Regions from separate parts of the Homo sapiens genome. Here region 1 is linked to region 2. The links come from fine-mapping of genetic effects on gene expression. A gene starts in region 2. The other region holds a variant in brackets. All regions are shown on one strand. Distances are between the middles of the regions. Region 1 overlaps PABPC1L (poly(A) binding protein cytoplasmic 1 like). Region 2 holds the start of PABPC1L (poly(A) binding protein cytoplasmic 1 like).

Region 1 (11,125 bases), 22 kb after region 2:
TGTGAGGAGGTAGGGAGCTGGAGTGGGAATGAGGAATTTTCCAAAGAGATCAGTGTGAGTGACAGGATGGGGGGACCCGCCTGAATGATGTGATGTTGGGTTCTGAGGAAGTGGTCTAGAAGTTCTCTTTTGGCTACTGAGTCCAGTTGTAAACATCCTTCAGGGAGCCTTGTGTTTGGAGGAAAAAAGGTTGTCTTTTAGGTTAAGATCCTTTTGAAAAATGCGAGAGAAGGCTGTGGCACATGTAAATTAGGCATCAGTAAATTTGATTACACATCATAAAAAGCTATAGGTCCTCTTTCCAAGCAAATGCATATACATTTGATGTAGAAACATGGTTGAAAGCTGGAATTTTAAAGTTAATCAGGTTTAAATGTAAACCCCAGTCCTACCATTACCTAGCTGTAGAAACTGAGGCAAGTGGCTTTGCTTTTCGGACCTTGTTTACTCACCTATAAAGTGGGAGCAACATTTCTCACCTCTCCAGGTGTCCTAAGAACTACTAAAGAGGCTGCATGTACAGCATCTGCATTCAATAAGTAGTGAAATAGTGATTGTCGTAATGATTCATCATACACCTTGCATACAGCTTCAGGAGATGGACCTTCTTGAGGACTCCCCGAACAAAGGAAATGTGTAAATTTGGATTGCTTAGAGTTAAGGCACACCTGGGGTGACCATCTTTTTAACAGGACAAACGGTATAAAATGGGGATTATAAATATATCTATTTTTTGTGTGTGTGATGGAGTCTAGCTCTGTTGCCCAGGCTAGAGTGCAGTGGCGCCATCTCGGCTCACTACAACCTCCGCCTCCCGGGTTCAAGTGATTCTTCTCCCTCAGCCTCCTGAGTAGCTGGGATTACAGGCACCTGCCACCATGCCCAGCTAATTTTTGTATTTTTAGTAGAGACGGGGTTTCACTGTGTTGGCCGGGCTGGTCTCAAACTCCTGACCTAGTAATCCGCCCGCCTCAGCCTCCCAAAGTGCTGCAATTACAAGAATGAGCCACCACGCCCAGCCTACATATATATATATATTATACAATTATTTATTTATTTTGAGATAGAGTTTCCTTCTTGTCGCCCAGGCTGGAGTGCAATGGCGCGATCTTGGCTCACTACAACTTCTGCCTCCCAGGTTCAAGCAATTCTCCTGCCTCAGCCTTCTGAGTAGCTGGGATTACAGGCGCCCGCCACCAAGCCCTACTAATGTTTGTATTTTTAGTAAAGATGAGGTTTCACCATGTTAGCCAGGATGGTCCTGAACTCTTGACCTCAGGTGATCTGCCCGCCTTGGCCTCCCAAAGTGCTGAGATTATAGGCGTGAACCACTGTGCCTGGCCTATGTTATGCGATTTTATATATTTTGGTTTATTATTATTTTTTATTAGATGCAGGTTCTTATTCTGTTGCCCAGGCTGGAGGGCCATGATGTGATCATGGCACGCCACAACCTCAACCTCCTGGGCTCAAGTGATCCTCCCACCTGAGCCTCCTAAGTAGCTGGGACCACAGGCATGTGCCACCATGCCCAGCTGATTTAAAAAAAAATTTTTTTTTGGTAGAAATTGGGAGTCTTGCTGTGTTGTCCAGGCTTGTCTTGAACTCCTGGGCTCAAGCAGTCCTCCTACCTCAGCCTCCCAAAGTGCTGGGATTATAGGCATGAGCCACTGCATCTGGCCTGTATTTTGTTTTATATAAAAATAATTATGAAAATTAAAGGAATTAATGGATATAAATACTTATACCACTATCAAGTTCATGGTAAGCTCTGCATAAGTGTTAGCTTTGCTAAATTTTATCATTATTAACTACCGACTGCCAGAAGTTCTTAACAATATATATATATTTTTTTTTTTTTGAGATGGAGTTTTGCTCTTGTTGCCCAGGCTAGAGTGCAATGGTGCAATCTTAGCTCACTGTAACCTTTGCCTCCTGGGTTCAAGTGATTCTCCTGCTTCAGCCTCCTGAGTAGCTGGGATTACAGGCGCCTCTCACCATGCCCAGCTAATTTTTTGTATTTTTAGTAGAGATGGGGTGTCACTATTTTGGCCAGGCTGGTCTCGAACTTCTGACCTCAGGTGATCCACCTGCCTCAGCCTCCCAAAGTGCTAGGATTACAGGCGTGAGCCACTGTGCCCGGCCCTTTGGCTATCTGATGAAGCCTGTGGAACCCTTCTAAGAATATTTTTTAAAAACTTTTTTGAGACAGAGTCTCGCTCTATCACCCAGGCTGGAATGCAGTGGTGCCATCACAGCTCACTGCAGCCTCCAACTCCTGGCCTCAAGTGATCTCCTGTCTCAGCCTCCCAAGTAGCTGAGACTATAGGAGCACCACTATGCCTGGATAATTATTTTTTATATTACCCAGGCTGGTCTCAAACCCCTGGGCTCAAGCAATTCTTCCGCCTCTGCTTCCCAAAAATAGGCATGAGCCACCAAACCTGGCCCTAAGAATATTTTTAAATGCATAAAATAAGATTCTTAGGTGTACAAAAAAATCATACTGAAAAAATATAATGGTCAAAATACTAAAGTGAAAGCAGTATGTGCTTCTTTTATTATTTTTATTTTTATTTTTTTGAGACGAAGTCCCACTCTGTCGCCCAGACTGGAGCGCAGTGGCATGATCTTGGCTCACTACAACCTCTGCCTCCCAGGTTCAAGAACCTGGGTTCTGCCTCAACCTCCTGGGAAGCTGAGATTACAGGCACCCGCCACCATAACCAGCTAATTTTTGTATATTTTTAGTAGAGATGGGGTTTCACCATGTTGGCCAGGCTGGTCTCGAACTCCTGACCTCAGGTGATCTGCCCACCTTGGCCTCCCAAAGTGCTGGGATTACAGGCATAAGCCATTGCGCTCGGCTGAGATTAGCAATAATTAATGTGATATGAAAATATTTTCTTTTTCTTCATGACAAATTCATGGCTAATACTGCCAGGATTTTTTTGTTGTTGCCCATATTCATAATAGAAGGAAATGCTAATATGAAAATAAAGATGTCACTTTTTCCCCAATCCATGCAATTTCCCCCTAAATTGTATCCATGACCTACCTGAGGGGGATCCATGGACTCTCAGGTTAAGACCCCTCTACTGAAGGGTAGCAGAGTACAGTTTCAAAATTACTGATTAAGAGCGTGGGCTCACCAGGAGTTCAAGCCCAGCCGGGGCAACAGGATGAGACCTCATCTTTACAAAAAATGAACAAAATTAGGCATGGTGGTGCTTGTCTGCAGTCCCAGCTACTTGGGAGACTGAGTTGAGAGGATCACTTGAGGCTGAGAGGTTGAGGGTGCAGTTGAGCTGAGATTGCACCACTGCACTCCAGCCTGAGTGACAGAGTGAGATCCTGACTCAAAAAAAAAAAAAAAAAAAAAGAAAAAAAAAAAGGAAAAAAAGAAGATTTTAAAAATAACTCTAGTCCTTATGGGCTGTATGAGCCAGGCCGGTGTCTTCACCCTAAAAAAAGGTTAAAAACCCAGGGCCAGGTGTGGTGGCTCCTGCCTGTAATCCCTGCACCTTGGGAGACCTAGGTAGGAGGATCTCTTGAGACCAGCCTGGGCAACATAGTGATTGCTGATCTCTACAAACTTAAAAAAAAAAATTAGCTGGGTGTGGTGGCATGTACCTATAGCCCTAACTACTTGAGAGGCTGAGGCAGGAGGATCCCTGGAGCCCGGGAGTTTGAGGCTGCAGTGAGCTATGATCATACCACTGCACTCCAGCCTGGATGACAGAGTGAGACCCCATCTCTTTAAAAAACAAACAAATAAACAAAAAGACAAACCCTAAATGCCATGTGGGTTGGATCCTGGAAGAGAAAAAGAATATTAGGGGAAAAAAGAGTGAAATTCCAGTGAAGTCTGGAGTTCAGTTAATAGCATTGTAGTTAATAGGAGCTAATGGTATAAAATAGTTAATAGCATTGCACCAGTGTTAATTTTGTAGTTTTGAAAAATGTACCATGTTCACATTGGGGGAAACTGGGTGAAAGATATACAGCAGGCCAGGCATGGTGGCTCACGCCTGTAATCCCAGCACTTTGGGAGGCTGAGGCAGGCAGATCACTTGAGGTCAGGAGTTTGAGACCAGCCTGGCCAACATGGTGAAACCCTCTCTCTACTGAAAATACAAAAATTAGCCAGGTGTGGTGGCACACGCCTGTAGTCCCATCTACCCAGGAGGCTAAGGCAGGAGAATTGCTTGAACCCGGGAGGCTGAGGTTGCAGTTAGCCGAGATCGTGCCACTCCACTCTAGCCTGAGTGACAGAGTGAAACTATGTCTCAAAAAAAAAAAAAAAGATATATAGCAACCCTCTGTACTGTTTTTGTAACTTTTTCTGTAAATCTAAAGTTACTCCAAAGTAAAAAGGTTATTTTAACAAAAAGGCTAAGAACCTCTTCCCCAAATTCCTAAAGAACTTGGCTTGGTACTTAGCAGAGGCGATAGAAGCTTACCAGAACAATGTGTTGGGTTGAGTCCTGGCTAACGTATGAACCACAGGCTGAGTGACCCCAGACAAGTCACTCTTTCGAGTCTCTCTTATCCCGGCTGTAAAGTGGGAGCCGCGATGCCTCCCGCATCGGGAGGTTGTACATGTGAGGTGTGAAGACATGTAAAGTATCTGGCATGCAGCAGGCCTCATAGATGGGGGTGCGTGCTGCATCCCTCAAACAGCTCAGTAAACAGGGTGCACGCTACATCCCTCCATCACTCCTCAGTAAATGGGGGTGCACGCTACATCCCTCCATCACAGCTTGCTAAACGGGGGTGCACACTACATCCCTCGAACACAGCTTAGTAAACAGGGGTGCACGCTACATCCCTCCATCACAGCTTTCTCGCGGGCCTGCCCAGTGCTGGGCTTAGCCCATGGGGAGGAGGGAGGCAGCGCAGCCCCAGGAGCCTTCCTTCCCCACCCCAGCAGCTCTTGTCTTGTCTTGCTTTTAGGTGATGACAGAGGGTGGCCACAGCAAGGGGTTTGGCTTTGTGTGTTTTTCCTCCCCAGAAGAGGCGACAAAGGCCGTGACAGAGATGAACGGGCGCATCGTGGGCACCAAGCCACTCTACGTGGCACTGGCCCAGCGCAAAGAGGAGCGGAAGGCCATCTTGACCAACCAGTACATGCAGCGCCTCTCCACCATGCGGACCCTGAGCAACCCCCTCCTGGGCTCCTTTCAGCAGCCCTCCAGCTACTTCCTGCCTGCCATGCCCCAGGTGACGGCCTGCCCGCAACTCCCACCGCAGCCTTCCCCCCTGCCCCAGCAAGGCAGAGCATGAAGACTAGAGTTCTAGGGAAATGGAGGTTTCTAACTTGCTTCTGCCGAGGACTCATTAGGAAGTCTTTGTTTCCCTCTCTATAAAAGGGAGAGATAGTGTTAGTCAAATGGCATTTCCCAGTGAGAGAAGCTCGTGAATGTTGTGCTGAAAAAGACTCTTAATGATCCAGCAAGTTTGGGAAATGCTGCGTTAAGCAAGACCTACATTTTTCCTTCCTCCCTTCCTTCCCTTCCCTCCCTTCCCTCCCTTCCCTCCCTTCCCTTCCCTTCCCTTCCCTCCCTCCCTCCCTCCCTCCCTCCCTTCCTTCCTTCCTTCCTTCGTGGGGTCTCCATGTCACCCAGGCTGGTGAGCAATGGCGTGATCATGGCTCCTTCCTTCTTCCCTCCCTTCCTCCCTTCCTCCCTTCCTTCACGGGGTCTCCATGTCACCCAGGCTGGAGAGCAATGGCATGATCATGGCTCACTGCAGCCTTGAATTCCTGGGCTTGAGTGATCCTCCCACTGTAGCCTCCTGAGTAGGTGGGACTACAGGTGTGTGCCACCATGCCCAGCTAATTTTTTTGTTTATTTTAAAGAAGGGGTCTCGCCATGTTGCCCAGGCTGGTCTCAAACTCCTGGGCTCAAGCAATTCTCCTGCCTTGGCCTCCCAAAGTGCTGGCATTACAGGAGTAAGCCACCGTCCCCCGCCCTACATTTTTTTAAAAATTAAATTTTTATTTTTTTGGAGACAGAGTCTTGCTCTGTTGCCCAGAATGGAGTGCAGTGACACCATCTTGGCTCGCTGCAAACTCTTCCTCCTGGGTTCAAGTGATTCTTGTGCCTCAGCCTCCCGGGTAGCTGGGATTACAGGTGCGTGCCACCACACTCAGCTAATTTTTTGTATTTTTAGTAGAGACGGGGTTTCACCATGTTGGCCAGGCTGGTCTTGAACTCCTGACCTCAAGTGATGTGCCCTCCTTGACCTCCTAAAGTGCTGGGATTACAGGCATGAGCCACCATGATCGGCCCTAAATTTCTTTACTATCTACACTATTCTACCCTAAGATGCCAATGTCTACTGAGACTCTCCAAAACAGGCACAGATTATCCAGCATTTCCCCAGCTTAGATGGTCATTTTTTTGTGGGATGCCTGTTAACATCTCCCCTGGATGTTAATGTTCTGAGGAGCATGGTTTGGGAAAGGACCTCGTGGGACTTACAGGAAGTAGAAAGATGTCACCCATTAAAGGCCACCA[C/T]GGTAAGAACATTCCTCTCCTTTTAGCAGTTGCTTAAGCTGCACAAGTTGGAGTAAGATGTCACCCTTTTTATCCAGGTCATTGGGTTAGCTGACAGGGAGCCAAGATTGAAATCTAAGATCTTTGCCCTGCAGGATTCAGGGCTAATGGACATCCTGAGATGGGAGGAAGGAGCTTTCATTACAGCCTTGTGGGTCTTGACTCACCAGTCCCTGCAGGAGCCAGTGGAGTTCCTGCCATGGTGTCCCTGAGGAGGTGTAGCTTCTCACCTACCCTGCCGCCAAGCCCCTCAGTCTGGGTCTTCTTTTCCCATGCAGCCTCCAGCCCAGGCTGCATACTATGGCTGTGGCCCAGTGACACCCACCCAGCCTGCCCCCAGGTGGACATCCCAGCCACCTAGACCTTCCTGTGAGTGACCCAGCCCCTTCCACTCTCAGACTGGCCTATTGGTGTGGGCCCCGTGAGGCAGTCATAACACAGGGATGAAACCTGGCTCTGCCACTTCCCAAGGTGGGTGACTTCACTTCTCTGAGCCTCAGTTTCCTCTTCTGAGCATGGGCCTGAATGAGACGTGTGTAAAGTACCAAGCACAGTGGTGAGCCAATGGAAGACACGCAGCTAGCCACCAGCAGTCATCACCAAAGATGCCTCTGATTTGTGACTCTGAAAATTCTTGCAAAGCTGAGAAGGTGAAATTCCTCTGGCTATATTGTTGACCAAAGGCCCTCCTCTGTAAGAGTGAATTGCACGCTCACTTGAAACTATCTTGAGGGACTAAGGTGTACAATCCTGGTGCTTATGCAGTTTGGGGCTCTAGGTAGACACGAGCTGGCTTTGAAATTGTAGATTCCTACACTCCCCCTTTCTGGAGTTCTGGGTCTAAGTGAATTGACTCCTATTTCTGTTGTGAATGTTGTAGTTTCCCTTCCCATTCTCTTGGTGGCCCTGGAAGCTTCTAGGCACAGTGTGCCACCCTGATTATTCCCACCACTCCATCCAACTTTTCTCTCTCTGTGGTGTCTGCACCACAAGCTGCCTACCCTCCAGGTGCCTCAATGGTCCGGCCACCAGTTGTGCCTCGGCGCCCCCCGGCCCACATCAGCAGTGTCAGGCAGGCCTCCACCCAGGTGCCACGCACGGTGCCTCATACCCAGAGAGTAGGTGAGTGTGGGTAGGGCCAAGGGGAATGGGGGTGGGGCAAAGTTGGCACTAGGAGTCAGGACCAGCCTCCATGGTGACCTTGCCATATGCCCTCTCGGTGAGCAAAGCTGACTTTGGAGACTGTAGCGTGGTAGTTAGCTTGGCCTCCAGTTCCTGGGACCAACTGACTATGAGGCCCTTGCTGACTACTATATCTGTCACCTAATCTTTAAAATGGGGACAAAAATAGTACCCCCATTTTATTGTAGAGAATTTAAATGTTTTTTTTTTTCTTTTTGAGGCAGAATTTCATTCTTGTTGCCCAGGCTGGAGTGCAATGGCATGATCTCTGCTCACTGCAACCTCCGCCTCCCAGGTTCAAGCGATTGTCCTGCCTCAGCTTCCCAAGTAGCTGGGATTGTAGGCATGCGCCACCATGCCTGGGTAATTTTGTGTTTTTAGTAGAGACGGGGTTTCTCCATGTTGGTCAGGTTGGTCTTGAACTCCTGATCTCAGGTGATCCGCCCACCTCAGCCTCCCAAAGTGCTGAGATTACAGGCATGAGCCACTGTGCCCAGCCTTAATTTTTTTTTTTTTTTTTTTTGAGATCGAGTCTTGCTCTGTCGCCCAGGCTGGAGAGTAATGGTGTGATCTCGGCTCACTGCAACCTCTGCCTCCGGGGTTCTAAGCGATTCTCCTGCCTCAGCCTCCTGAGTAGCTGGGATTACAGGCATGCGCCACCATACTTGGCTAATTTTTGTATTTTTAGTAGGGACAGGGTTTCACCATGTTGGCCAGGCTGGTCTCGAACTCCTGACCTTAGGTGATCCACCAGCCTCGGCCTCCCAAAGTGCTGGGATTACAGGCATGAGCCACCATGCCCGGCTTGTTGTTGAGGATCAATGAGATCATGCATGAAAGGGCTTAGCACTGGGCCTAAAGCCTGGTAAGTATTGCAGTGACTATAAACAAGGGTGTAGGTTTTGGCTGTACAGCAAGCACATCTGTTCTTTCATTCTGCAAATGTTCTCACATCCACAGTGTGCTGGGGCCCCAAGCTCAGCACTGGAGGTTCTGCGTGAACGAGGTATACTCAGTCTCTGGCCTTAGGTTGCTGCCAGGCCCTGACACCCCTGCTTATTCCTTTTTATTGTGGTAAAATACACATAACAAAATTTACCACTTAACTATTTTTCAGTGTACAGATCAATGGCATTAAGTATATTCACACTGTTGTGCACTGTCACCACCATCCACTCTCCAGAACTCTGTTCAGCTTGTAGAGCCGAAATTCTGTACCCATCAAACCATAACTTCTCGTTCCTCCTCCCGCTAGCCCTTGGCAACTGCCATTCTACTTTGTCTCTGTGAATTTGACTGTTCTTGCTTGGTACCTCATGTAAGTAGAATCATAGAGTATTTGTCTTTTTGTGGCTAGTTTTTTTACTTTACATGTCTCAGGATGTATCTATGTTGTGGCGTGTGTCAGAATCTCCTTATTAAGGCTAAATAATATTCCATTGTATGTATAGACCTCATTTTTACTTATTCATTCATCTATCAATGGACACTTTTCTACCCTTTGGGTATTGTGAATAATGCTGCTGTGAAAATGGTTGTGCAGGCTGGGCGTGATGGCTTACGCCTGTAATCCCAGCACTTTGGGAGGCTGAGGCAGGTGGATCATGAGGTCAGGAGTTCGAAACCAGCCTGACCAACATGGTGAAACCCTGTCTCTACTAAAAATACAAAAATTAGCCGGACGTGGTGGCATGTGCTTGTAATCCCAGCTACTTGGTAGGCTGAGACAAGAGAATTGATTGAACCCAGGAGGGGGAGGTTGCAGTGAGCCGAGATAACACCACTGCACTATAGCCTGGGTGACAGAGCAAGACTCTGTCTCAGGAAAAAAAAAAAAAAGAAAGAAAATGTTTGTACAAATAGCTCTTTGAAACCCTGCTTTCAATTCTTTTGGGTATATACCCAGAGGTAAAATTGATGGATGATATGGTAATTCTGTTTAACTGTTTGAGAAAGCCCTATACTGTTTTTCTGTAGTGGCTACATCATTTTACATTCCTACCAACAGTGCACAGTCTTCTAATTTCTTTACATTCTTGTCAACGCTTGTTATTTTCTGTTTTGGTGTTGTTTTGTTTTGTTTTGTTTTTGGATAGCAGCTATTTGAACTCTGCTTTTTTTGTTTTGTTTTGTTTTGTTTTGCAGCCAACATTGGTACTCAGACCACAGGACCCAGTGGGGTAGGATGCTGTACACCAGGCCGGCCGCTCCTGCCGTGCAAATGTTCCTCAGCAGCACATAGCACCTATCGGGTAAGGCCAGCCCAGCTGCCTGCTCTTAGCCTGGGCTCCTGGCCGCCTGGCTCAGAACCTTAGCTAAGGTGTTGGGCCTTGGCTTTTTTTCTTTTCTTGGCTTGTAAAGTTTCGTTTATTAATGTGTACAATCAATAAGAGATCACCCTTACTGCGAGAAGGGGAAAGAGGGCCAGCATTACGTTTTATTTACAATTTGTTTTGCTTCGGTTATTACCAAAATTAATTTGGATATCCTTAGTATTTGTGATGAACACCAAGGAAAGGTATTCTAAGAATATGCTGATTATTGAAGGGATGTACTTAATCTTCAAAACAGAAAATACTTACTGTAATCAAAGACTGTGTATTTATCTCCCTCCCCTAAAAAAGGCCTAAAATTCAGCATTATCATATCCTGTGTAGAATTTCAATGTGTCTCTTTTGAACTATTTCCTGCAAAATGAATGAGAACAGTCTTTAAACAGCAAAAATGTCTATTTTTTTTTTTGGACAGGGTCTTTTTTTTGACAGCACCCAGGTTAGAGTGCAGTGGTGTGATCATAGCTCACTGCAGCCTTGAACTCCTAGGCTCAAGTGATCCTCCCACCTCAGCCTCCAAGTACAGGCATGTGACACCATGCCTGGTTAATTTTGTGTATTTTTTTGTAGTGACAGGGGTCTCATTATGTTGCCAAGGCTGATCTCAAACTCCTGGCCTCAAGCGATCCTCCCACTTTGGCCTTCCAAAGTTCTAGGATTATAGGTGTGAGCCACCACACCTGGCCAAAATGTTTTAAAATTACCAAGATGTGAAAGGGTGAGAGGTGTGCCGGGGACATGTCCATAAATCTACTTGATAAAAAGTGCTTTATTTGGCACAAAGTTATTGGTAACACAGGGCTTTCCTTTATCAACGTTCATCAGGGACCTTTATAAGTTCGTAGCACTACAGGAAACGTCTAAGCTAGAGGCATGACTTTGTCTTCTAATCCACTTTGCCCTTGTTGGGGACTCTCCACCCCACCTGATCATCCAGACCTTGCCCTCTGTTCCCCTCCTCCAGTGCCTCCCTGGCCTTCTGCTCACTTGCCAGGGTAAGTATTTTGAGGACATGCCTGTCCATGGTGATTAAGGGATGTGTCCCCGGCA
Region 2 (10,963 bases):
CAGAAAGTAAGGTGTTCTACTTGAAAATGAAAGGAGATTATTTTAGGTATCTTTCTGAAGTGGCATCTGGAGACAACAAACAAAGTAAGTAATATCTTTAAAAAGAAATTCGACCAGTAATGGAGCCAGTCTTCTTTCACAGGGACTTTTTAACGATTTTTGCTTTGTTCGCCATAGACACCAATGTCACAGTACTAAGAATTTAAAAGACCACAGCATTGTGACGAACGGGGTCATGGGCGGGCAAATAAAAATTTATCTGACAGGGAAGTATGGAGGGCATTACAAACCTGGTGCGCAGTGTATTTAAAAAGATCTTATCTTGAGTATTATTTGTTAGCTCTCTTTTTAGCAGTGAACTTTTTATACTTGGTGGTACGAAACTACCCTAGTGATGCATTGCATTTATCACATGTATTACCGTGATGGTGGTAATCTTAACCACACTTTATTAAGTGCTTCTGTGCCAAGTACTTCCGAGTCTCACTTACTCTTCACACAGCCTTACGAGTTAGGTGGCAGGCTGCCCATTTTTCATATAAACTGAGGTTTATGGAGGTTTCTACTTGCCCCAAGCCACAGACCTAGGGAGTAAGAGTTGGGAATTAAAGTTTGGATCTATCGACTCTAAAGCCTGTGATGTTTGCACTAGAATGTATGGTTTTTCACATTCTATATTGTTAAAGGTTATAGCTGTATTTAACTGCTTTAGTAGACTTTGTCATAATTGTTTTCCCCCAAAGCATTTAATATACAACTTGGTTTAGAATAAATATCTAACAAATGTATAATTGAATGGCAGAGACACTGACACTTCATTTGATAGGTCATTGCTCCTGCCCAGTTTGGGACTGAGAAAATAATTTGATAGTTGGTCCAATGTGTGATACCTATGAAAGAACCGAGCCTTTAATATTTTCATCTTTATGTTACAGCCACTGTGTCGAACTCCCAGCAGGCTTACCAGGAAGCATTTGAAATTAGTAAGAAAGAAATGCAGCCTACACACCCAATTCGTCTTGGTCTGGCACTAAATTTCTCAGTCTTTTACTATGAGATTCTAAACTCTCCTGAAAAGGCCTGTAGCCTGGCAAAAACGGTGAGAAAGACCCTTTGTGATATCTAACCATAGCAAAACAGTGCTTGTGTTATTAACTTCATTTTATTCCTGAACATACTCATTGTCTTGGACTTTTTTTGAAAGATTTTCTGGGGGTGGGAGTGTATCTTTTATGAGATAAATACAGATCTGTTACTTTTTTAATTCATTCTCAATACCTTCTGCTGACTTTGTTTGATTACTGTTTTTTGCGGGTGGTTGTAGAAAGTTCCAGGTGAATGTAGTTAGTTGTTTCTTACCAAGCTTTGGGCCTTGGTTATACATTGTCATTCTCATGCCAAGATTTGAGGTTATAGTTGTATAAAAGAAATACACAGCACATTCTTGTTGTGTGTTGGATTACCTTCCATATTCTTCCTTTGGCCTTCTCTACATATTTTTTATAGTCCCTCAACATGCACACAACTTTTTAAAAACATTTTTATTCGGGAAAGGTGCCTTAAAGTTCCGTCACTTAAATCAGATTTAGTGATGTGAGTTTCCAGACATTTTGAGTTTTAGTTTAAATAAATAAATAATTTTAAATAGAAGATTGCTAGAAAAGTCTTTGGTAATTAAAAAATCACACGCGTTTGCCCAGAATGACTGTGCTAGGGTTAGCAGTAATACTGCTTAGTTATTAGGTACAGCAAAGTTCTTACCTTGGAGTTTCTGTCATTGTTGGTTGGTGCTTTGTAAATATGCCTTATACTTCTGCTGGAAACAGCTAACAGACAGGGTAATAATAGCCTAGGTTCCCCCAAAGTACTGTACAAGAAGATAAGTTATATTCACCTAGCGGGAAAAAAAGTGGGCTAAACTAGCTCCAGAGAACTTGTGAATTCTTTGCTAAAGGCTCTTTGTTTTAGGCATTTGATGAAGCAATTGCTGAATTGGATACGCTGAATGAAGAGTCTTATAAAGACAGCACTCTGATCATGCAGTTACTTAGGGACAATCTCACTGTAAGTACTACTTCCACAGGGTTTATAGTCTCTTTCCTATTCACCTACTTAATAATTCACTGTTATCTTCAAGAGGGGATTTGTACCATTAAATGTAGTTACAGTTTTAAGTTGTTAAATTTGTTATAAATGACTGCTGAAGTTTTGACCTTTGCAATCATCCCTGTCTGCAGTGACACAGGAATAATTTTAAACTGTCGAGTGAGATAAGATTATACATACTGGGCCACTTACCTAGGGAACTTTTAGTAGCCCTGCTTTGATTATACTTCCTTTCTCTTGCAGCTGTGGACATCGGAAAACCAGGGAGACGAAGGAGACGCTGGGGAGGGAGAGAACTAATGTTTCTCGTGCTTTGTGATCTGTTCAGTGTCACTCTGTACCCTCAACATATATCCCTTGTGCGATAAAAAAAAAAAAAAAAAAAAAAAGAGAATCGTACGTCGACTTTCGATTTTTCACAGCCTCAGCCTAGGAAAAATGGTTCATGGGATAAACAGCTGGTATTTGTATCTAAAACTCAGATTGGTCACATAAATGCCACGGCATTCCGAAGTTTTGATTTTGATTAACATTGACAGGATTACTGTGTGTTTAATTTTTTAAAAACTGAACACTGTGATTATGGGGTTTTGTAATTTAGCAGAACTCTTACTGGTAGAAAAAATAGACCTGAATTATGTGTAACTTTTTGGAAGGTTTAATCTGATATCAAAATAATCATTGAAATACAATTCCATTGTAAAGTTGTACAGAAAGTTATAGAGATTATATTGTGATGCTGGAACTTGGAGTGAGACACACATCATTTGGCATTTGAGTTGAATGGTAATTCACAGTAATGCTGCCGTTGTTCGGGACTTAAAGACACTTGACCTGTTTGGGCTGTTGCCACTTAAAAGTTCATGACCACAAATGTCCACAGTGTCTTCCTCTGAGGAAACTCGAATCCTGAAATGGAAATTCTTTGTGGCAGATAACTGGCTTATGACACCTTGAAAAGTTCAAGTGCTCATATAACACACCACACTGAACCCCCTTTCCTACAGCAATATGTTCACTATGTTACCAATTTGCAACTTGTGCTTCAATAGTGGAATCTACTTTCATTGTTAACACTGAGCTAAAGAAAAAAAGCCGTGTGTTTTATGAATGACCTTATCTGTTTCCTGGATAATACCTTTAAGAATAATGTCCTGAGTCAGGCGTGGTGGTGCGTGCATCTAGTCCCAACTATTTGGGAGGCTGAGGCAGGAGGATCGCTTGAGCCCAGGAGTTTAAAGCTGCAGTGCCCTGTGGTTGCACCTGTGAATAACTGCACTCCAGCCTGGGCAACATAGCGAGACCTCATCTCCAAAAAAGAAAACAAAAAACAAAAAAAGGAATGATGTTCTGTAGAGATGGCCTTTCACTTGAGGAGTACTCAGTTTTCAGGTTCTTCCTAGCTCGGGGCTTTTAAATTTTGAAATCTAAACATTCTTTCCCACCATCCTTTTTGACTGTTGACCTTGGTTTTCTCTTCTAAGTTTCTGTCCCTCTGCTTCCTTACTTTTTTTCCTTTTTGAATTCTATCTTTATCTGTCTTTTGTTCACTTTTTAATGCTATATATGGGCAGGGGTGAGAGACATTACTGAGCACCTTGGTGAGCAAGCCTGGCTTTAAAGATTGGAGAAGAGCTTCTGGCACCAGAACCCTGTCTTCCTCCAGTTCTCAACACGGTGTTGCTCTTCAGTCATACCGGAATCTGAATCAAAAAAGTATTTTTAAATATCCATGATTTCTCCCTGTATTGAGGCTAGCCCTGATCATGCTTTTTGTGCCTGTCACCAGGTCTCCCAAGTGCACTCATCCAGGTCAGTGCTCAGATGTGTTTAAGGAGACCCTATATTCAGGGAAGTTGCGTGAACACTGCAGTGGGGAGAATTGAGAATAGTCAGGCCTATCAGTCTCACAGAATCACCCCTCTACCTTTGATATTCCACTTAGCTGTAGAGTCCATCTGTTTGTCCATCTGCTGAAATGAGAAAAGAAAAATTTATGCACTGATTTAAAACAAACCAAAAAAAAAGAAAAAAACAAAAAAAAAAATCCCTCCTTTCTAGCTGAACAAAAATGTGCAGTTAATACTTGGCGCTTGAAAATGCAGTAGTGAATGTGGAACCAAGCCTGTCTGTATATCTGGTAGCTCTTTTCTTGCTTTGTTTTTTCTTACCAGTATTCTGCCTAACGTTTGCTTCTGTGATGGTTATATTGCCTAGCAAGCACACCCGTGGTTGTGAAAATAGTATAGCAAAAAAGAAAAATCCCCGGTTATTGATGTACTAGATTTGTGTATGTCTTTTAAACAGTTCTAGTTTCACCTTACACAGAATAATCAGGAAAAGTGTAAAAATTCAAAAGTGAAATAAAAATTTTATCAGTTAGTTGCCTGTGAATTGATGTGTCACCACCATCTCTGTTGTTACCAGACCTAGCTAACTATTCTGATCACACTTATTTTTAACTCTGTTTTCTTTAAAAATAGGCAAACAGTTTTATTTCATTATTTAGGACCAGAAGTCAAGGTGTTATCCAGGGGAAGAAATTACCATTAATTAAACAGCCTCTTTACACCCGTTACTTGATACCTCTCTACCTTCCACAACAAACCATGCAGGTATTAGGTCCTCTTTAGTGACTTCTAAGATTTGGTATGGACAGTTATTTTGCATTGTATTCGAGCCCACCATCCCTTCCCCATTTTTTAACTCTGAGATACAACCAAGCCAGTGAAATAGGTAACCTATGGTTGCATAAGTCTTGGTCATCACCAAGCTGGCGTCTCACCTGTCCTCACACTGTATGGTGGCCTGCAGAGCTGGTTCCTCACAGGATTTGCCCCTTCTGAAAACATCCACATTACCACAAGGAGAGAAAAATATCAGGATAGAGGGGTCTTTTTTAGCCCAAGATTAGAATTAGTGCTTCCTTGCTACTCTGAGGCTGGACAGCCAGATGGGCACCTTCTGTCCCTAGTTTAGGAGCTGTTCCACCTGTTGAAGCCACACTCAACCAAAAGTCAGTGGGGGCCTACCTGCTCTGTTGGATCAGTGAGACCAGGAAAGTCCTATCAGAGGAAAAGTGAAGTATTGGTGCTCAGTGGAGTAGTTGTTTTGTTTTTGTGTTGTTTTTAATGTCCCTATACCACAGATTGACGCTGCAAGCTCAGATTCACAGTCTTGCTCTGTTTAGGTCTTGCTCTGCTATTAGTTCCCAATTGTCCGCATTTAGGCTGAGCCACAAGTAACTCAGTGAACCTCCCTGGTGTAATGGATGTGTAATGGCTTAGCAGAGGGACAGGGAATATCCCAGGAAAAGGGGTCTTGGTAATATGAGCCAGTACCAAGAAAGGCCTTAGTGGTCTCCAGTTCTCATGTCTCAAAGCCATTTCCATCCTTGGTGCGAAACGGTGGGACTGGATCAGGCTCTCTGGAGGAAGACATCTTCAATGGAGCAGGGTAAAATTCTCTACACAAGCTTTGAAACAGTGGCCTGTTCGGAATTCCGTTTGTGTGTGAAACGCAAAAAGCGCGGTTTGGGTCTCCTTTCATTCTTGTCAGGAGGGAATCATTCCCATTTTACAGAGAAGGGAAACGGGTTCAGAAAGATGATCATCTGTTCCGGGGTTAGAACTCAGTCCCCTGCGTCCTTTCCGTCCCAGTCCTCGGCTCTTTCAAAAGAGCTGGGGGTTTTGAGAGCTCCACTCAAGTCCCAGCAGCCCTGCTCAAGGCCAGGTTGAAGGCTTTTTCCGCCTCCCAGGGCGGGGTCAGAGGTGTCCCCACCTGTAGCTTTTAGATCCCCAAGTGCTCGCAGGTGGGGGGTGGGCCCAGGAGGGATCCCGGGGGAGGGGCGTCCGAGCGCGCCCACGATTGGTGCGCAGGGACGCGGGGGCGGTAAAGGGAAGGGGCGGGCCCGCGCCCAGGAAGGAGGGCTTCCGCCCGGGTGAGCGCGGGGCTGCTGGGTGACCCGGCTCCTGCTTGCCCCGCAGCCCCGGCCCCCTGCCCACCATGAACGCCAGCGGTTCTGGCTACCCGCTTGCCTCGCTTTACGTGGGCGATCTGCACCCCGACGTGACCGAGGCCATGCTCTATGAGAAGTTCTCTCCCGCCGGCCCCATCCTGTCCATCCGCGTGTGCCGCGATGTAGCCACCCGGCGCTCGCTGGGCTACGCCTACATCAACTTCCAGCAGCCCGCGGACGGTGAGCCCCGGGGATGGGGCGGGAGGGGAAGGACCGACGGACAAGCAGGCGGACAGACAGAAGCCGGAACTGGGCCGCTTGCGCTTTCATCTTACACTTTGCAGCCGGGGAAACTGAGGCTCAAAGATAACAGGGCGTTGGCAGAGGCCTGGCCCCTGAGACGGGAATTGGTAATTAGTGTGGTTTACTGCTATTCCTCTACAGAGGAGAGAGATTAGGGTCGAGTGAAAACAGATACAGGCTTTGTGGGGGTGGGGGTGGGGGTCAGGCGGACCAGGGATAGAAGCCCAGCAGCCGTGTGACTCTGGGCAAGTTACTCGACCATTCTGAGCTTCAGATGCGTGTCTGGAAAATGGGGGTCCTAGCTGCCTTATAGAGTGCTTGTGAGGATGAGAGATTCAAAGCACCTGGTGAGGAAGATGCCCAAGGCAACACAGCTGGTGAGCAGGGGAGGCAGGAGAACCCAGCCTTGGGCTCAGGCCTTTCCCAGCGCGACGTGAGATCCACACTGGGCGCCTCTACCTGCACGGGCTCTGAAAAACCGCTGCCTCCAGGCCGCAAGGCCGCTTTCTCAGAGCTGATAGCATTGATTAGAGCTTGTCCGATGAGTTTGCCTGCACTTCTGTTGAGAGTGGAGAGGATGAGTGAGCTTGGGCAAGCCTTCACGCTCTGCACCTTTTCATCTGCAAAATGGGGCTAAGGCGTATTCTCCAATAACATAAAGAATGGAGAACTGCTGTCTATGCATAAAGAATGGTAACTGCTTGTTACCTCGTAAACGCTCTTAAGTGGTAACCTAAAATAAATAAATAAATAAATAAATAAATAAATAAATAAATAAATAAGGCCAGGCGCAGTGGCTCACGCCTGTAATCCCAGCATCTTAGGAGGCCGAGGTGGGCAGATCACTTGAGGTCAGGAGTTCGAGACCAGCCTGGCCAACATAGCGAAACCCTTTCTCTACTAAAAATACAAAAAATAGCTGGGCATGATGGCGGACGCCTGTAATCCCAACTGCTGGGGAGGCTGAGGCACGAGAATCGCTTGAATCCGGGAGGCAGAGGTTGCAGTGAGCCGAGACTGCGCCATTGCACTCCAGCCCGGGCAACAGAGCGAGACTCCATCTCAACACAAAACAAAACAACAAACAAAAAAGAAACAACAACGAAAATAGTGGCTTTAACATTCTGATGTAAGACTCCAGAAACTCACCCAAAAAATGGCCGGCGTCCACTAGAGGGATCCCTTGCGCCAGGTCGCCTGGGTGAACCTGGTGGTTGCCTGAGTGGGTGGTTTGCTAGGGAAGGGGTTGTTCCGCCGGGCCTGTTCCCCGCCCCTTACTGGGCTGGATTCCTGGGCACTTTTCTGTTTGTTCTGCTTTGCTCCACCTCCTGCCTCTTCCCATCTTCCTCCAAGCCCTGTGAATGAAGTGGGACTCGGCCTGGAAACCGTGCTGCAGAGAGAAGGGTTTTGCCCCAGGTATTTATGATAAGACTAGGTGGAGAATCCGGGCTTCCTGAAACTTGCTCCACTGTGTTCCCCACAGCCCCCTTCCATGTCTCTGCACTAGCAGACTCCCTGAAACAGGTCACGTGTATCACCCAGGAGAGACACAGGCTGCAGCAGTGGCCGGAGGCTGGGCATCGGCTGCTGTTTTGAGACATTATTTTGTGTCAGGCACAAAGTTACAAACAAGGCACTTTTACATACCTTCTTTATTTTTCAGTCCCTCCAACAACCTGGTAGTTGGTAGTATCTCCCTTTGTTAGGTGTGGAAAAGTAGGTAATATTACCATCATTCCCCCTTTACAGGTGAGGAACAGGCTCAGAGAGGTAATGTCCACTTTCCCCAGAGCCGGACTGCTTGAGATCTAACCTCAGCTCTGCCCTGCAGCACCTCTGAGTTTTAATTTCCTCAAAGTGCTGCCACCCCTTGTCATATGGACATTGTTATCCACTCAGTGTACTTTAGAATCCAGAATAGACCTGACGCTGCCACAGACCTTTCATGTTTCTTATTCTCAGTTTTCCCATCTGTAAAATGAGGGGCAGGAATCCATGCTCATGTGGCTGCAGGGAGTTGGTTGAATGAGATCATAACTGGAAGGTTGGGGGAGCACCATACACACTAATTCTCAGCTTATCCTTCCTGAGCCTTTGGGCTCTTATCTCAGTTATTTGGGCTCTTATCTTGGCTTATTGTCTGGGACCCAGACAATGACTTTCTCTTTATTGGCTCCCAGTTAAGCACCTCGAGGGGTGGGTGATCAAGGTAAGAAAATTCCCTAAACTTGCTAATTTCTCTCCTCTTCCTTCTGTCCAGCGGAGCGGGCACTGGACACAATGAACTTTGAGATGCTCAAAGGCCAGCCTATTCGCATCATGTGGTCCCAGCGAGACCCAGGACTTCGCAAGTCAGGTGTGGGCAACATCTTCATCAAGAACCTGGAGGACTCCATTGACAACAAGGCTTTATATGATACCTTCTCCACCTTTGGGAACATCCTCTCTTGCAAGGTAGAGGATGAAGGGTGTACGTCTTTGGGTAGATCGGTGTCAACTACCTGCCTGGTAGAGGGGTGACAAGCAACACCTCACTTTACAGTTTACAAGGTCCTTTCAGTCAAGTTTCAGGTACAGCAAGCACCTGAATGACAGCCGTTCTTTCAGTTTCATCTTCCGTGAATGACCAGACATTACCTGTGTATCAGTCAGCTCTCGCTGTGTAACCACCTTCAAATTTAGTGGCCGTCAACAACAATCATTTATTTAGCTAATAATTCCACAGTTGGCAATGGGCAAAGTTCAGCTGGGCAGTTCTTCTGGTCTTGGCTGGGTTCCCTCCTATGCCCACTGAAAGCTGAGTGGGAGCTCTCGCTGGGTATATGAGGGAGCGACTGGCTGTCAGCTGGAACATCTTGGCTTTCCTCCCTATGGCCTTTTGTCCTCCAGTAGGCTAGTCCAGGCTATTCTCATGGTATTCTCATGGCAATGGCAGGGGCTCAGAAGACAAGAGTGGAAGCACACCAGGCCTCTTGAGAACTAAATGCAGAACTGGAACCATCACTTCCACTACGTTTTTTTTTTTTAATTGAGATGCAGTCTTACTCTGTTGCCTAGGCTGGAGTACAGTGGCATGATCTCAGCTTACTGCAACTTCCTGGGTTCAAGCCTCCTGAGTTCAAACGATTCTCCTGCCTCAGCCTCCCGAGTAGCTGGAATTACAGGTGCGAGCCACCATGCCTGGATAATTTTTGTATGTTTAGTGGAGACAGGGTGGGTTTCACTGTGTTGGCCAGGCTGGTCTCGAACTCCTGACCTCCCAAAATGCTGGGATTACAGCCATGAGCCACCGCACCTGGCCTCTTTCACTACATTCTATTGACCAAAGCAAGTCACAAGACCAGCCCACATTCAGAGTGAGAGGGGAGTAGAAATTATAGGATGAAGGGTGTGGCTACAGGAAGGCCATTAATTGGGGCCATCAAGGCAATTAAGTTATTGAATCTTGTTTTTAAGATTGTCTTACATTAGATGTAAGTTCCATCAGTGATCTTGTTCTTAGTCATTATTGTATCCCAATACTTAGAATAAGATGTGAAACATATTAGGTGCTCAATAAATATATGTTGAGCCAGTGGAGGTATGTCATTTGAGAAGGATTCTGATTATTTCTCTGACTTTTTATATGAGGATGTTGAGGATCAGCGGCCATATAGCAGGTCAGTATGTCTGGAACAGAGGGCTTAAACCTGGGTGTTCTGTCTCTAGATTTTATAAGGATAGTTGATCAGTTACCCCGTAGCCTTTGGAGTGTCTGCTATTCTAGGGAGGATGGGGACAGTTTTTGTAGCCTATGTGTCAGAACTTTTTTTTTTTTTTTTTTTTGAGACGGAGTCTCACTCTGTTGCCCAGGCTGGAGTGCAGTGGCGCGATCTCAGCTCACTGCAACCTCCTCCTCCCAGGTTCACGCCATTCTCCTGCCTCAGCCTCCTGAGTAGCTGGGACTACAGGTGCCCGCCACCACGCCCAGCTAATTTTTTTTGTATTTTTAGTAGAGACGGGGTTTCACCGTGTTAGCCAGGATGGTCTCGATCTCCTGACCTTGTGATCCGCCCGCCTCAGTCTCCCAAAGTGCTGGGATTACAGGCGTGAGCCACTGCACCTGGCATGTCAGAACTTTTATCAAGTGCTACTGTGTGCCAAGCATAATCCTTAAGTTCTCAACGAGGGCTCTCAAATTCCCAGTCAATAAGAGGCTATCCCTGTGGCTCAGAGGAGCAGGTAGACTTGAGGAGATGTAGTAATGCACTAAGGGTTATCTGTGACAGAGAGACGGGGCTGTTTCCTGTCTTTGAGGATCAAAGGAAGAAAGACTCTTAACTGTGTATTAAGTTCTTCACAATAATAATGGCAGATTTATCATGTACTTTCTGTGTGTTAGGTTTTCTGCATACATGTATACTCCTTAAAAGGGTACCTGGCATACTGTTAAGCTTCTAAGTGATAACTGTAACAATCAAAGAATTACTTCTGTTGGCTGACCTTGGACAAGTCATTTATTCTCATTTTCCCTCTGGGGCTCAGAGGTTAAGAAATGACTGAAAGGATTCTCTTATGACTGGCATAGATAACAAGGGAAGTATGTAATGCCCTTAG

The links.
Region 1: its variant is fine-mapped to the expression of PABPC1L in whole blood (INTERVAL, PIP above 0.99).

Annotation. Positions count from the first base shown.
Region 1 is chr20:44,925,504-44,936,628 of GRCh38, forward strand. PABPC1L (poly(A) binding protein cytoplasmic 1 like) reads left to right here. Exons shown (of 15, transcript NM_001372179.1): 8 at 4,957-5,223; 9 at 6,839-6,929; 10 at 7,554-7,682; 11 at 9,888-9,994. Among named protein-coding and RNA genes, the nearest start is that of PABPC1L, 21 kb to the left of the region's middle. The variant C/T (reference allele first, on the strand shown) is at 6,522.
Region 2 is chr20:44,904,033-44,914,995 of GRCh38, forward strand. PABPC1L (poly(A) binding protein cytoplasmic 1 like) reads left to right here and starts at 6,028. Exons shown (of 15, transcript NM_001372179.1): 1 at 6,028-6,304; 2 at 8,628-8,821. The coding sequence starts at 6,112. YWHAB (tyrosine 3-monooxygenase/tryptophan 5-monooxygenase activation protein beta) reads left to right here. Exons shown (of 6, transcript NM_139323.4): 3 at 1-84; 4 at 936-1,099; 5 at 1,969-2,064; 6 at 2,350-4,500. The coding sequence ends at 2,406. RefSeq lists a silencer at 5,882-6,211.